Linked DNA regions of Homo sapiens. The protein of the gene in region 1 interacts with the protein of each later gene in a pairwise test. Each region holds a gene or a part of one and is shown in the gene's direction. Other genes may lie near its edges.

Region 1 (3,500 bases):
GTCAGATCTCACGTCCTGATGCTTTAAGCTGCCTGCTGGGAAATGATTAGCAGAGGTCTGTATCCCTTGGGGGTGATGAAAGAGAGAAAGAGAAGTATTTTCTGTCTCTACTTTCCATTTACTAAGACAAATCCTTTGGTTATGAAAAGCTTTTGCTTTTATCTTTTTTGAGAAAAACATGACCTTTCAGTAAGAATTTTTCTAAATAATATGCTGACCTTTCTATTCATAAATTGTAAGGTTGCTTTAAAAATGGGCCTTTTATCTGAGTGGCACAATATAGTCTCATTCTACTAGCCTTTAAAGTTAAACAATAAGGACTCCTATTTCTACCTTTAGAGTTACTATTTTTATAATTATGTGTGTTTGGCTTGCTTTTTGCAGGTAATTATCTTATAGTCATTACCAAAAAGATAAAAGTAGGTGAATTTTTCAGTCATGTAGTCTGGAAAGCAACAGATTTTGATGTCCTTTCTTATAAGAAGACAATGTTGCACTTAACTGATATTCAGGTAAGAACTGGAAATTGTTACTAATTGCAGCGCCCAAAGAAGTAGCATGGGCTGGGGAGAGGAGGGTGAGGGTGTTGTGGAATACAAAGAATGCTATAATTATTTTAACAACCTATAGAGTAAGATCACTCTACCTACTTTTCTACCTAGGCATAAAAAATATTTTTTAAATCATTTGTTGCTCTTGTTTTTTTTTTTTTAAAGATTCAGTTCTTAAATTATGCAATTTCATATGGAGAGAAGGGAAAACAGAAATGCACGGGTACTCAACACCAGATTTAACTTCATATCCTCTTTGTAAAGAAATAAAATATAAATACCTTTGAAGTTCTACTCCTCTTAACTCATTCCCTTCTTTCCCAGAGAGGTTTTCTCTATTTTTACCACATGTGAATGTAAGTGTGTGTGTGTGTTTATGAAATGTGTATATATTCTTTCAGGCAGTTTTCCTTTTGCACTATTCCTGTATGCACAGATTTCAGTAACCATAGTTTAGTTAACACCAGTACCCAAACAGCATGGCTTAAATTTCAGTTACTCCAGTTTATTAACTGAAGAATTAACCCACCAAAGATGAAGGTGCAAAAAAACAAAAAGCAACAACTCTGGAAGAGAAATTGAAATTGAACATAAATGGAGCATAGAAGAAGTAGCTGACCATGGGAATGCTGACACTATTCACCATTCAAGGGACAGTAGGTATGCAGCCAGAGGTCCTGGTGCAGGCGAACTGACCGACATTAATGATGGAGTGGCTGTGACGAAAGGGATGACAGTATCCCAGAGAAAGTGATGCCTGCAACAGACTTCCCATTAAAGGAAACCTTGGAGATATTTCCCAACATTGAAAGTGCAAAGGATAAAATGTCAGAAGTTGGTTTAGACTTAGGAAGGTGTATGACAGTTCACCAGGGATAGAAGAAATATTCTGTATCTTAATCTATATGACAAGAAGGCGGCAAGCACTGTTCAAGTCTCTTGATAAATTTTTTTACAAAGAAAATATTTTTTATTCTCGGTGTTTCTAATGTTTTAAATTATAGTGTGCTAAATATTAGTTTTACAATTTGTTCATTTATGCTTATAATTTACTATATATAACTTACAAGTTACATCTACAACGTAACTATATAAGTTAATATCTATAACTAATATCTATAACTTACAATAGAGTTTTTAATGTTTTGACAAAAAAAATTTTTAAAGGTCATGAAACAGTCATAGTTTTTACAATTGACTGTTAAGATAGCTTAAGATTATTAAGATGAAAATAACATGGTAATTTTTACATTCCCACTTTACAAAGTAAAGACTGCCTGTATTCATATTTAAACAGGATCTGTTTTTGCTCGGAGTGTGTATGAAACTTACATGAATGGCATTGCCCTGTTCTGATTCTTTGAAACTTACTTTTTAAAGTCAACATTGTTTAGAGATATATATACCTGTTGAGAGTGATTGTTTTCTTAATGTAATTTTAGTTACATGTTTGCTATTTAAAAATTTTAAGTTGTATTTTTACACCCAATTTATAAGAATGTTTCTAGAAGAAAATATATTATTCTAAAACATATAACTTAGGATAAACATTTTAAAAAATAAAATTATAGCACTGCCTACCTGAGTAAAACTACAGGATATGCTTTTTATACTTTAGAATTTCTTTTTTATTATATATATCAAGAAATATATATCAATATCTTCATTCTCTACTAGGCATATTTTAAAGAAATAAAAACAGCTGTATTTATTTAATAGACCAGTCATATTTACTTAGACAATTTCTTCTCGATTGTTATTCTTTGTTGTCAAGCTGTGTAGCTAATTTTAAAAACATGTCTGAGCACAAATAAAAAATTTTGTATATGTAGATTTGTAACATGTAGATTAACAAGTTAATCATTTAGTAATGATTAAACGTTACCAAACATTAACAATTGTTTTTTAAAACAAGGATAAAAACAAATGTCAATCTTAGTATTCATTGGGAAAGCTAGTTAAAATGGTTTCCCAAAAATAAAGATAAATATTGCTTTTACTGGACTTTTTAATCTTTGTTTTAAAGAAAAAGAATTCCATTTTACTTCTCGTCCATCCCAAACCAGGGAACGTTTCTTGAGAATGTGGATGATGTTAGTATCTTGTTATTTGCTGTTTGCATTATTGGGCCCGTCGTAAATTTATGTGTTTTATTTGTCGAAGATAGCTATGCTAACTTAGCAGGGCTGTTGTGAAGATTAAAGGGAATCTTTGGAAAATACCTGGCACACAGTAGGTCATAACCGAAGGTGATGTTTTGTTAAAACTACTCTTCTGCCTTTGAGAATAAAATTTGTAAAGGATACAAAGGGGAGGAGTCCTACCTAATCAAGTTACCTAATAGTACCCTACAGTGTTTATTGAGTATCTTCTGTGTGTCAGGAACTGTCCTACATCCCAGGGAAATGGCGAGCATCCCCCTCACTGGCTCAGTCCTTGTGCCAGTAGTCTTTAATGAGACTGGACTTAACAGGATTTAATTTGTATTCTTTTCTCATGCTGGCAGATTCCTTTTCAATTATGAGCTATACTGATTTTTCTTTGTTTATAGTTACAAGATAATAAAACCTTCCTAGCGATGCTAAACCATGTCTTGAATGTGGATGGATTTTACTTTTCAACAACATATGATTTGACCCATACTTTGCAGCGGCTATCCAACACTAGTCCTGAATTCCAAGAAATGAGTCTCTTGGAAAGGGTAAGCTTGATCTTCAATTATTTTTATTTTTAGGTTTTTAAAAGGGACATGTCTCTGTTTCATGCATAAAAATTTATATTGATTTTTCTCAGTCCTGGCTATCTTAGAATCATGTATGAGGCTTTGAAAATATACCCTGTTTTAAATATACATCACAATCCCAGTGTGTGAGTCCTTGAATCTGTGTATATATACAGCCAGAATTGAGAATCACTGGTGTAGATATTCAGAAATCTTTGTATAAACAC
Region 2 (3,500 bases), on another chromosome or scaffold:
CTGAGCTCAGCACAGGAGCAGGAATGACCCTGGATAATGAAAGCTGTGACTGGATAATGAAAGCTGTGAAGGGGAGCTAGTGATAGGTTTATGTCTGCTGAGAGGAGCTGCTCTCCTTTCTTTGTACAGATAGGAGGCAAGGGCACTGGTTGTGAGTGAAGGTGGGTATGGAGGTAGGTGGGAGGCCAGAGGTCTGAGTTGAGAAGATTTGAGATAGTTGGTGGGAAGTGTGGAAGAGTGAGTCAACCAGAGCTGGTTTGAGGATGGTCTGGCAGGGGGAGCCAAGTATGCAGCAAAGACCAGAAATGAGCCTCTTGGCCCCTTTGGGGAATTGCAAAGTAGGGGGATGAGGATGGAGGCAAATTAGAGACAAAAGCTACATTTAACATATGATAAAGGAGGCATCATAAGTCATGGGGAAGGAAAGGATTGTTCAGAAAATGGTACTTGGAGAGAAGTAAACTATTGATAAAATCTATTTAGATTCTCAGCTCACACCCAGAAATTTCAAATGAACTTAAGGAGCTAAGTTTTAAAGTTCAAACAAAAATATGGGAGGAAATAATGGATGAATTTTTACTGATCATCTGGTACTTAAAAGCAGTAAGGATCATCAAGGAAAACTTCCCTGACCTTCCTTTGACCACGTGAAATTAACTGCTTTGTTCTAACAGATACTGTAATATGAACTTTGATAACATTATGCTAAATGAAATAAGCCAGACACGAAAGACAAATATTATATGACCCCACATATAAAAAGTACCTAGAATAGGCAAATTCATAGAGACAGAAAGTAAAATAGAGGTAACTGGTGTCTGGAGGGAAGAGGGTATGGAGAGTTATTGTTTAATGGGCACAGAGACAGAGTTGGTGTTTGGGATAGTGGTCATGGTGGTACAACATTGTGACTATACTTTAAGCCACTGAATGGTACACTTGAAAATGGTTTAAATGGTAAATTTTTTGTTATTTATATCTTACTACAATTAAAAAAGGGGCTACTTTGGTATGCTAAAATATACCATCAACAACTGAAAATGAGCTGAAGAAAATATTTTCAAAAATGAGATTATATTTCTTAATTCATAGAGTTTATACAAGTCAATTTTTAAAAAGCAGAACGATTGCAGTTTTACAAGTCAGGAATGGTTGATTCACAAAAGGAAATAAAGATGAACGAAATAGTTTAATTATGAAAACATCACCCTTATAAATAATAAAAAGAAGTTAAATTAGTGTTGTATCATTTTTTACATATCAAAATAAAAACTGATGAGAGAATCACTCATACTGCCTGTGAGAATGTCAACTGAGATAGTTTTTCCTGACAGGAAATTTAGCAGCTTTGCTTTCCCAGTGTTCACGTATCTCCTCTTCAGTCAGGAAATCTATTTCTAGGAATTCATCCTAAAGGAAAAGCATATGAGATGTGGACATTTATTCAGCATATAGCAAAAATTACAAATAGCCTAAATGCTCAATATAAGGAATGAATTACAAAATAACAGTATATCCATCCCATATACCAAGCACTCAAATGTTTACAGAGCATTTTTAATACCACAGTTAGATACTTACTGTGAATAAAATAGAAGCAGAAAGATAAATTAGATACAAATATATGTATTATGTGTTCATTACATAGGAGTCACAACATTCATACTTTTCACTTCCATAGTCAGTTGTGTTTGCTCATCAGAGACTAAGCAAGGCAGATTAACTAGTAAAGACGACTCATCTGAACACATCACAGTTCATAACCAACTACTTCATCTGTGTGGTGTCTGCATAAGAGATTTTCAAGAAAAATTCTGAGTCTTTGTAATTTTCACTTTATAGGCTGAATTCAGAACCTCAGTACCATGTGTAGGGAAGGTAACACACAGGAGACCAGTAATACACTATCTTTCAGCAAGTCCAGCACAGCCAGGAGTTCCTGGGGTTTGGAACCCCAGGCTAAGCACTAGATGCTGCAGTTGGCTTGGTTGGGGGTTACATTATACAGAATGACGGATCATTAAACATTAGAAGGACATCGACCATGGCAAGGCACATCCACTGACAGAGGCTCCTGCACAGTGAGGCTAAGGGAACAGCAGCTGTCTGCATTTCCTGCTTACTCCAAGCTGAACTGTGATGTGTTCAGGTCACACATCATCATGTATGCCAAAATATGAACAGTTGTCTTCAGTGGTGGGGATTGTGAAAGACTTTTTCCATTTCCTTATACTTTCCAGAAGTTGGCAATTTTTCCACATTGAATGTGCATTGCTTTTATAAGCAGTTATTTTGGGAAACAGAAGCATTTAAAATCCATTTTTTAGGCCAGGCGTGGTGGCTCACACCTGTAATCCCAACATTTTGGGAGGCCGAGGCGGGTGGACTGCTTGAGCTCAGGAGTTCCAGACCAGCCTGGGCAACATGGCAAAACCCTGTCTCTACAAAAAGTACAAAAATTAGCCAGGTGTGGTGGCTCATGGCTGTAGTCCCAGCTACTCAGGAGGCTGAGGCTGGAGAATCACTTGAGCCCAGGAAGCAGAAGTTGCAGTGAGCCGAGATCACACCACTGTACTCCGTCCAGCCTGGGTGACAGAGTGAGAACCTGTCTCTTAAATACATACATACATACATACATAAACTTTTTGGTTTTCAGTTCTCTTTGTAAATAATCTATTTCTGTCTAAAATACAATTTAAAGTCATACTACTACAAGACTTCTAGCTCCAGAAATTTTACTCTGTACCAGGCATTGTGCAAAGTATTTGACATGCATTTTAACCCTTACAGTTTTCCTGTAAGGCTTAGATTCTGTTCTTTCCATCTCACAGATTGCTGCTGGTAATACTCATTGAATAGTTAGTGTGAGGCGCTGTTCTAATCACTGCTGTCTTGTTTTCTCTGAGGCTAACTTACCCAAGGGTGCCCCATAAGCTAGAGCCAGGATTGGGTGTGGGTGGTTGGCAGCAGCCCACGCTCCTCCCCCACGTGTGGTACAGAGGTGCAGCCTGAGCTTGTGGGGTCGCTCAACAGGGAGTGGGGAGCGGGATCCCAGCCCAGATCTGCCTGTGCTTCATCATGCTGCGCCGCCTCCTTCCTGTTCAAGTTGATGGCCTTCTTAGAAAGTTTTTAAAATAATATTTTCATCTTGGCTTAACAGTATTAGGAATTATCTGAAGAAAATTCTAGTTGAACCACTAAGAGTAAAACAAGCTATGCCTACAATTATTTTAGTCTCCATAGGCGCTCACAGTGAGCTAAATCAAAATGGGAAACCAAAATGGAAAGGGTGTTACCTAACTTTCCTAACAGAATAATCATTTATTTGGATTAGTTAAGACAGGGCTGAAAGTGAAGAGTCCCCAGCATACCTGGCAAGGGCGTTTAAATTAAAGTCAGGGATGGAAATGGCTGCTTTCTTCTTTTCTTTCAGACCTGTAAAGAGTGAGGGAAGGCTGCCAACAGGCTAAATTGAGCCGTACTACACACTTTTGTGGCAA
Region 3 (3,500 bases), on another chromosome or scaffold:
GAGGTGGGCAGATCATGAGATCAGGAGATCGAGACCATCCTGGCTAACACGGTAAAACCCGTCTCTGCTGAAAACAAAAAACAAAACAAAACAACAAAAAAAATTAGCCGGGTGTGGCGGTGTGCGCCTGTGGTCCCAGCTGCTGGGGAGGCTGAGGCAGGAAAACGGCGTGAACCTGGGAGGCAGAGCTTGCAGTGAGCCAAGATTGCGCCACTGCACTCCAGCCTGGGTGACAGAGCAAGACTCTGTCTCAAAAAAAAAAAAAAAAGAAAAGAAAAGAAAAGAAAAAGAAAAAAAAAGAAATTTCGTTTCTAGGGCAGAAATTGTAGTCATGTCTGTTGGTATTTCTTATCTGTTACTTGGAGCCTTAATAGCCTATAACATGGTTGTGCTCCCACCAGTTATGTGTAGCATCTCTTTTAATCCTCCCAAGGGGTACTTTGAGCTGGGCTTATAAGAGCTATCGGGCAGCCCAGCCACTCCAGGTCTCAGCACCACTGTGCCCCTTCCCCTCCCTTCTTCCCACAGAGGGCTCCACAGGTAAGACGTGCCTGATGAAGGCTGTGCTGAACCTTAAGGACGGAGTCAATGCCTGCATTCTGCCACTGCTGCAGATCGACAGGGACTCTGGCAATCCTCAGCCCCTGGTAAATGCCCAGTGCACAGATGACTATTACCGAGGCCACAGCGCTCTGCACATCGCCATTGAGAAGAGGAGTCTGCAGTGTGTGAAGCTCCTGGTGGAGAATGGGGCCAATGTGCATGCCCGGGCCTGCGGCCGCTTCTTCCAGAAGGGCCAAGGGACTTGCTTTTATTTCGGTGAGTGAGCCTTTCTTGGATAAATCGAGGCAAAGAGAGAGTAAGGCCTGGTTCAAGGTCACATGGTTAGTGTATGACAGAGCTGGCAGTTAAACCTAGGTTTTTCTGACCCCGATGCCCTGCTTCTAACCACTAGGCTGCCTGCAAAAGCAGTTTGTCTTTTGTCCAGGCCAGCCTCAAACTCCTGGGTTCTAACAATCCTCCTGCCTTAGCTTCTCGAGCTGGGGCTACAAGTGTGTGCCACCACATCCAGCATTAATTTGTCATAAGAGATGTTTCATCCTCGTCTGGCCAGAAGACGGGCATGCACCCAGACCCAGACCCAGGGAAAGAAATAGGGGCTGCTAGCACTGGCATGTGACTTGGCCAGGCAGAGCCTGAATAAAGAGGCAGCATGCCTGGGCTCTGGCAAAGAAGACAGCAAAAGGCAGCAGGTTGGCTGGCCCCTGTTCTGCTCCCTTCAGTGGTAAAGAAGCCTGACCTGTTTCAAGGAGGGCTGGCCTTTTGTCCAAGGAGCATGAGGAGTAGGCAGATGGAAAGCAGGAGGCCTGGGGCCCAAGCTGCTCTCTTGGCCTGCAGGTGAGCTACCCCTCTCTTTGGCCGCTTGCACCAAGCAGTGGGATGTGGTAAGCTACCTCCTGGAGAACCCACACCAGCCCGCCAGCCTGCAGGCCACTGACTCCCAGGGCAACACAGTCCTGCATGCCCTAGTGATGATCTCGGACAACTCAGCTGAGAACATTGCACTGGTGACCAGCATGTATGATGGGCTCCTCCAAGCTGGGGCCCGCCTCTGCCCTACCGTGCAGCTTGAGGACATCCGCAACCTGCAGGATCTCACGCCTCTGAAGCTGGCCGCCAAGGAGGGCAAGATCGAGGTGAGCGGCTGTCCCCTTCCCACTTCCCCTCTCCAGGAAGCAGTAGGTCTCATCCCAAAATTTCTGCAGAAAGAACCCAGGGGGTGGTGAAGAGCAGTGGCTTCTCTGCTTTTCAATGGAACACTCCTGTTAGTAAGAAAATTTTCAGTATGTACCTCTGATATATTTCTGTTTATTTATAAATTGCATATGAACTACTGAATATATTACATTATAAAACATTGAGATTTTTTTTTTTTGAGACGGTGTTTCGCTCTTGTTGCCCAGGCTGGAGTGCAATGGTGCGACCTCGGCTCACCGCAACCTCTGCTTCCCAGGTTCAAGCGATTCTCCTGCCTCAGCCTCCCAAGTAGCTGGGATTACAGGCATGTGCCACCACACCCAGCTAATTTTGTTTTTTTTTTTTTTGAGACGGACCCTCGCTCTGTCACCCAGGCTGGAGTGCAGTGACATGATCTCGGCTCACTGCAACCTCTGCCTCCCAGGTTCAAGCAATTCTCCTGCCTCAGCCCCCTGAGTAGCTGGGATTACAGGCACCCACCACCATGCCTGGCTAATTTTTTTTTTGTATTTTCAGTAAAGAGGGGTTTCACCATGTTGGTCAGGCTGGTCTTGAACTCCTGACCTCGTGATCCACCCGCTTCGGCCTCCCAAAGTGCTGGGATTACAGGCACGCGCCACTGCACCCAGCTAATTTTTTGTATTTTTAGTAGAGATGGGGTTTCACCATGTTGGCCAGGCTGGTCTTGAACTCCTGACCTCAGGTGATCTGCCCACCTCGGCCTCCCAAAGTGCTGGGATTACAGGTGTGAGCCATGGCACCCGGCCAAACATTGGGAATTTTTAAAAGTCGTTTGTGTTTCTTTATTAAGAGATAGCCTTTTTATATCTTTTGCCTATTTTGCTATTCTGTTTCTGCATATTTATTGATAACTTTATAATGAATTTAGTATTTTGTCTACCATAGCACTTGTAAAATTTCTCCTAGTTCATCATTTGTCTTTTGAATTTTATGTTTTTTTTGCTATACAGGATTTAAAAATTTTTATAATCTGCAAGTGTGACTATCTTTTCCTTTAAGGTTCCATGGTTTTGCTATTGTCTAATTCCTGCTACAAGATTTTATATATATAATACATATTATATGTACATAATATATGTTATAACTATTATACATTATATTATACATTATAATTATATATAGTATATATATAATCTTCATACCCATATTTTCTTCCAAACTTTTGCAGCTGCATTTTTTTTTTTTTTTTTTTGAGATGGAGTTTCGCTCTTGTTGCCCAGGCTGGAGTACAATGGCGCGATCTCGGCTAACTGCAACCTCCGCCTCCGGAGTTCAAGCGATTCTCTTGCCTCAGCCTCCCGAGTAGCTGGGATTACAGGCATGTGCCACCACGCCCGGCTAATTTTGTATTTTTAGTAGAGACGGGGTTTCTCCATGTTGGTCAGGCTGGTCTCAAACTCCCGACCTCTGGTGATCCACCTGCCTCAGCCTCCCAAAGTGCTGAGATTACAGGCATGAGCCGAAACGCCCAGCCTGCAGCTGCATTTTTAATGCCTAGAGCTTTGACTAGCTGGAAGTTATTCTGGTAGGAAGAGTAAACATGAGGCAGCCCCCACTTTGTTCCAGATAGCTTACCAATGGCCTGTTCCAAATAGCTTTTGCCAATAGCTCACCAGGGCTGGCCTCATGGGCTTACAGTGGAGATTTTTGAAAGATTAAGGAAACGATAAACATAAATAGAAGTTTTAACCCTTTTTCGCTGCCCTCCCAAGTTTTTTGGA
Region 4 (3,500 bases), on another chromosome or scaffold:
CAACTGCTATGCCTGACGTGGGGACAGCTCTGCTCCCAGATGTAAATAGAGTAACCTGCACAAACCTGGATTTTTTAAAAAATACAACACTGAGCCATTTGCTTCATTTCTTTTTATATTAAATATGTTAATGACAATAAAACAATTTTTACTTGAAGAAAAAAAATGAAAAAGGCTGAGTGCAGTGGCTCACGCCTGTAATCCCAGCACTTTGGGAGGCCGAGGAGGGCGGATCATAAGGTCAAGAGATCGAGACCATCCTGGCCAACATGGTGAAACCCTATCTCTACAAAAATACAAAAATTAGCTGCGCATGGTGATGCATGCCTATAGTCCCAGCTACTAAGGAGGCTGAGGCAGGAGAATCGCTTGAACCCGGGAGGCGGAGGTTGCAGTGAGCCGAGTCGCGCCACTGCACTCCAGCCTGGCGACAGAGCGAGACTCCATCTCAAAAAAAAAAAAAAAAGAATGAAAAGGTAGCATGGTGGCTCATGCCTGTAATTCCAGCACTTTGGGAGGCTGAGGCAGGCTGATTGATTGAGCCCGGAAGTTTGCGACCAGCCTGGGCAATGGGGCGAAACCCCATCTCTATGCAAATTACAAAAATTAGCCAAGTGTGGTGGTGCGCACCTGTAGTCCCAGCTACTCTAGAGGCTGAGGCAAGAGGATTGCTTGAGCCTGGTATGCGGAGGTTGCAGTGAGCCACTGCATTCCACCCTGGGTGACAGTGAGACCCCATCTCAAAAAAAAAAAAGAAGGAATTAAAAAATAAACTTTAGTTTTTGCCATAGCTCTTTATTTCACTAATGTCCTCTTCCTTCGTATAAACAAATACTAATCTCTCTAAATATAGCAAACTATCAAAAGGAAATAGTTTTGTACCCTGTTATTTATGAAACTTATTATGACAAACTACTCCTAAAGCAGCTTCAGCTATGATTGAATAAATGCTGGAAATCCAGGATAAATAAGATACTCCACCTCCACTTTTTAAAGTAAATAAATGATTTGTGTTTTTGGAATCTCAAGAAATTTATAGCCAGGCATGGTGGCTCACGCCTGTAATCCCAGCACTTTGGGAGGCCGAGGCGGGTGGATCACCTGAGGTCAGGAGTTTGAGACCAGCCTGGCCAACATGGTGAAACCCCATCTCTACTAAAAATACAAAAAAAATTAGCCAGGCGTGGTGGCTTGCACCTGTAATCCCAGCTACTAGGGAGTCTGTGGCAGGAGAATTGCTTGAACCTGGGAGGTGGAGGTTGTAGTAAGCCGAGATTACACCACTGCACTCCACAATCCAGCCTGGGTGACAGAGCAAGACTGTCTCAAAAAAAAAAAGTTTACTTTCTCACATGGGATATATTTTACAGTTGGTCAAATGTGCTTGTGTGTGTATATGTGTGTATGTGTATTCTTTTCTCTGTATCATATGTGATAGTGGGGTAGTGCCAAACATTGTTAACTCTGATGAATAATGTCTCTTTTGGTTAGATCATTCTTACCTTACTGGTATCTCTTACTGTTTCCTTACCTAGTTATGCTGTTATTGCCTATGGCTGTGCCAGCTGCCCGAAGCTAACTTGTGAGAGGGAAGGTTGCCAGACTGAGTTCTGCTACCACTGCAAGCAGATATGGCATCCAAATCAGACATGCGATATGGCCCGTCAACAGAGGGCCCAGACTTTACGAGTTCGGACCAAACACACTTCAGGTCTCAGTTATGGGCAAGAATCTGGACCAGGTATAAGTTGGCATTATCTCATTGTCTCTTTATTTGGTATTTCATGATGTGAGCCCATAGCTGAAAGAAATTATCTTATTGTATAACCCAAGTACTCCAAAGGATCAGAGAGCAGAAAATATCATTTGATAATACTTTCAATATTATAATAAAGATAGCACTTCCCTCTCTGACCATTATAGGTTATCCAACTATATAAAATTGAAATGCAACAAAATTGAATTATGTAGTTCCTACTTTCTTAGTAATATGTCTCAGATTGGAGAGCAATTAGTTCATTTTGTTTTGCTAGGGGCTTTTTCAAAACTTTCATTGTGAACAGAAAGACATTTAATTAGTATTAAACCTGTGCTGTTTGCCTTCAAGCTGACTTAAGTGCCTCACTGCCTTTGGAAGTAGAGTACAGATTGAAGAAAAGGAAACAGTATTAGTATAGATTAATGATTAACCTTAAAAGGAGGAATGTCACACATTCAGCTCCAACCTTGGCGAGTCAGAGGAAACCTATTTTAAAATGTCAGTGGATTTATTGCTTTGTACTTTTATTTTGCTGATGTCATTTGGGAGAGGCTAGTAGGAAAGATTTTGCCATTCACTTTTTCCTGGCACAGCATAATTTCCTAAATTGTCATTTTATTAGGATAGTTCATAACTTGCTCTGAAAATTACCAAGTATATGGTAGATAGCATACCCAGTTGTTTTTAGGTTTTGAATTTGAAAGTATCATGGGAAGGGATTGTGGGCTATGTTAACAGCAAATCACAATGATACATGTTGAACCTGAAAAATAAATTTCCCAAACTAAAGTTTTTAAAAATGTAAAGCTAATTCCAGGCTGCAGGCTATTCTTTCTGTAGGATTCTTCTTTTAAATCTACCAGCCTATCGACTGGTAGAAATTTCATTTTTCTTGGAAACATCTTTCTCCCTAAGGAAATCTCCTTGCTAGAATGTGGTTCAAGTGCTGTGTAAGATGCCAGTTGTTGGGATAGGCAGCTCAATAAGAGACAGGATTCATTTTATGAAAATTCCTGAGGTCTAGACATAGCCAACCTTCCAGTAAAGTGGGTTGTACAATTTGGAGTGTTCAGTGAAGAGTTCTTGACTGCTGCCTCATTTCTTATATATACTCCTAGGAACAATTAAATCAAACTGGATTTAACTAGGGGTATTTTTTCTACCCATTCTTCCCCCACTCATAGCAGATGACATCAAGCCATGCCCACGATGCAGTGCATACATTATCAAGATGAATGATGGAAGCTGTAATCACATGACCTGTGCAGTGTGTGGCTGTGAATTCTGTTGGCTTTGTATGAAAGAGATCTCAGACTTGCATTACCTCAGGTAAGATGGGAAATGCATCCATTCCTTTCGTAGTCTCATTCTCTTACTGATTTAGGGAAAAGGATGTCAAAAAGACACATCCGTTCTCTCATTACAGGTTTAAGGAAGCTGTGAAAACTTCTTCTGACATGCTCCTCTAATCATGTTTTCACCAGCTACTATTCTGTTTCTACCTTTCTTTGCTTGCCATATTACAGGTAGTCTGGACTTGCTTTTTCCCTTTTGCTGTCTTGCCTCCATACTTGTTCATGTTCTTTCCTTTGCCTAGAATGCTTTCTGCCTACCTTCCAGTATCCTCCTTTTATCTCAACTTGTTCAGTTCTTATCTTTTAAGAGCCACTTAAATGCCTTTCATCCATGTTGCCTCTCCTTTTTCCGCCTCATTCTTTGACTTTCTTTTATCTTTTGTCAT

The links.
Region 2: the proteins of SACM1L (region 1) and MTERF2 interact in binary tests that used the Homo sapiens proteins (3 or more experiments, as listed by UniProt).
Region 3: the proteins of SACM1L (region 1) and TRPV2 interact in a protein complementation assay, tested with the Homo sapiens proteins (one study listed by IntAct).
Region 4: the proteins of SACM1L (region 1) and RNF19B interact in a two-hybrid assay, tested with the Homo sapiens proteins (one large-scale study listed by BioGRID and IntAct).

The regions. Positions count from the first base shown.
Region 1 is NC_000003.12:45,706,396-45,709,895, forward strand, and holds part of SACM1L (phosphatidylinositol-3-phosphatase SAC1), read left to right. Parts: intron 1-384; coding exon 385-512; intron 513-3,102; coding exon 3,103-3,252; intron 3,253-3,500.
Region 2 is NC_000012.12:106,980,647-106,984,146, reverse strand, and holds part of MTERF2 (transcription termination factor 2, mitochondrial precursor), read left to right. Parts: intron 1-3,433; exon of another isoform or gene 3,434-3,500. UniProt on the Homo sapiens protein: Binds mitochondrial DNA and plays a role in the regulation of transcription of mitochondrial mRNA and rRNA species.
Region 3 is NC_000017.11:16,422,071-16,425,570, forward strand, and holds part of TRPV2 (transient receptor potential cation channel subfamily V member 2), read left to right. Parts: intron 1-528; coding exon 529-819; intron 820-1,398; coding exon 1,399-1,697; intron 1,698-3,500. UniProt on the Homo sapiens protein: Calcium-permeable, non-selective cation channel with an outward rectification. Seems to be regulated, at least in part, by IGF1, PDGF and neuropeptide head activator. May transduce physical stimuli in mast cells.
Region 4 is NC_000001.11:32,947,810-32,951,309, reverse strand, and holds part of RNF19B (E3 ubiquitin-protein ligase RNF19B), read left to right. Parts: coding exon of another isoform or gene 1-16; exon of another isoform or gene 17-102; intron 103-1,535; coding exon 1,536-1,741; intron 1,742-2,943; coding exon of another isoform or gene 2,944-2,946; coding exon 2,947-3,088; intron 3,089-3,500. Other genes in the region: metallothionein-1E-like, read left to right, coding at 1-16.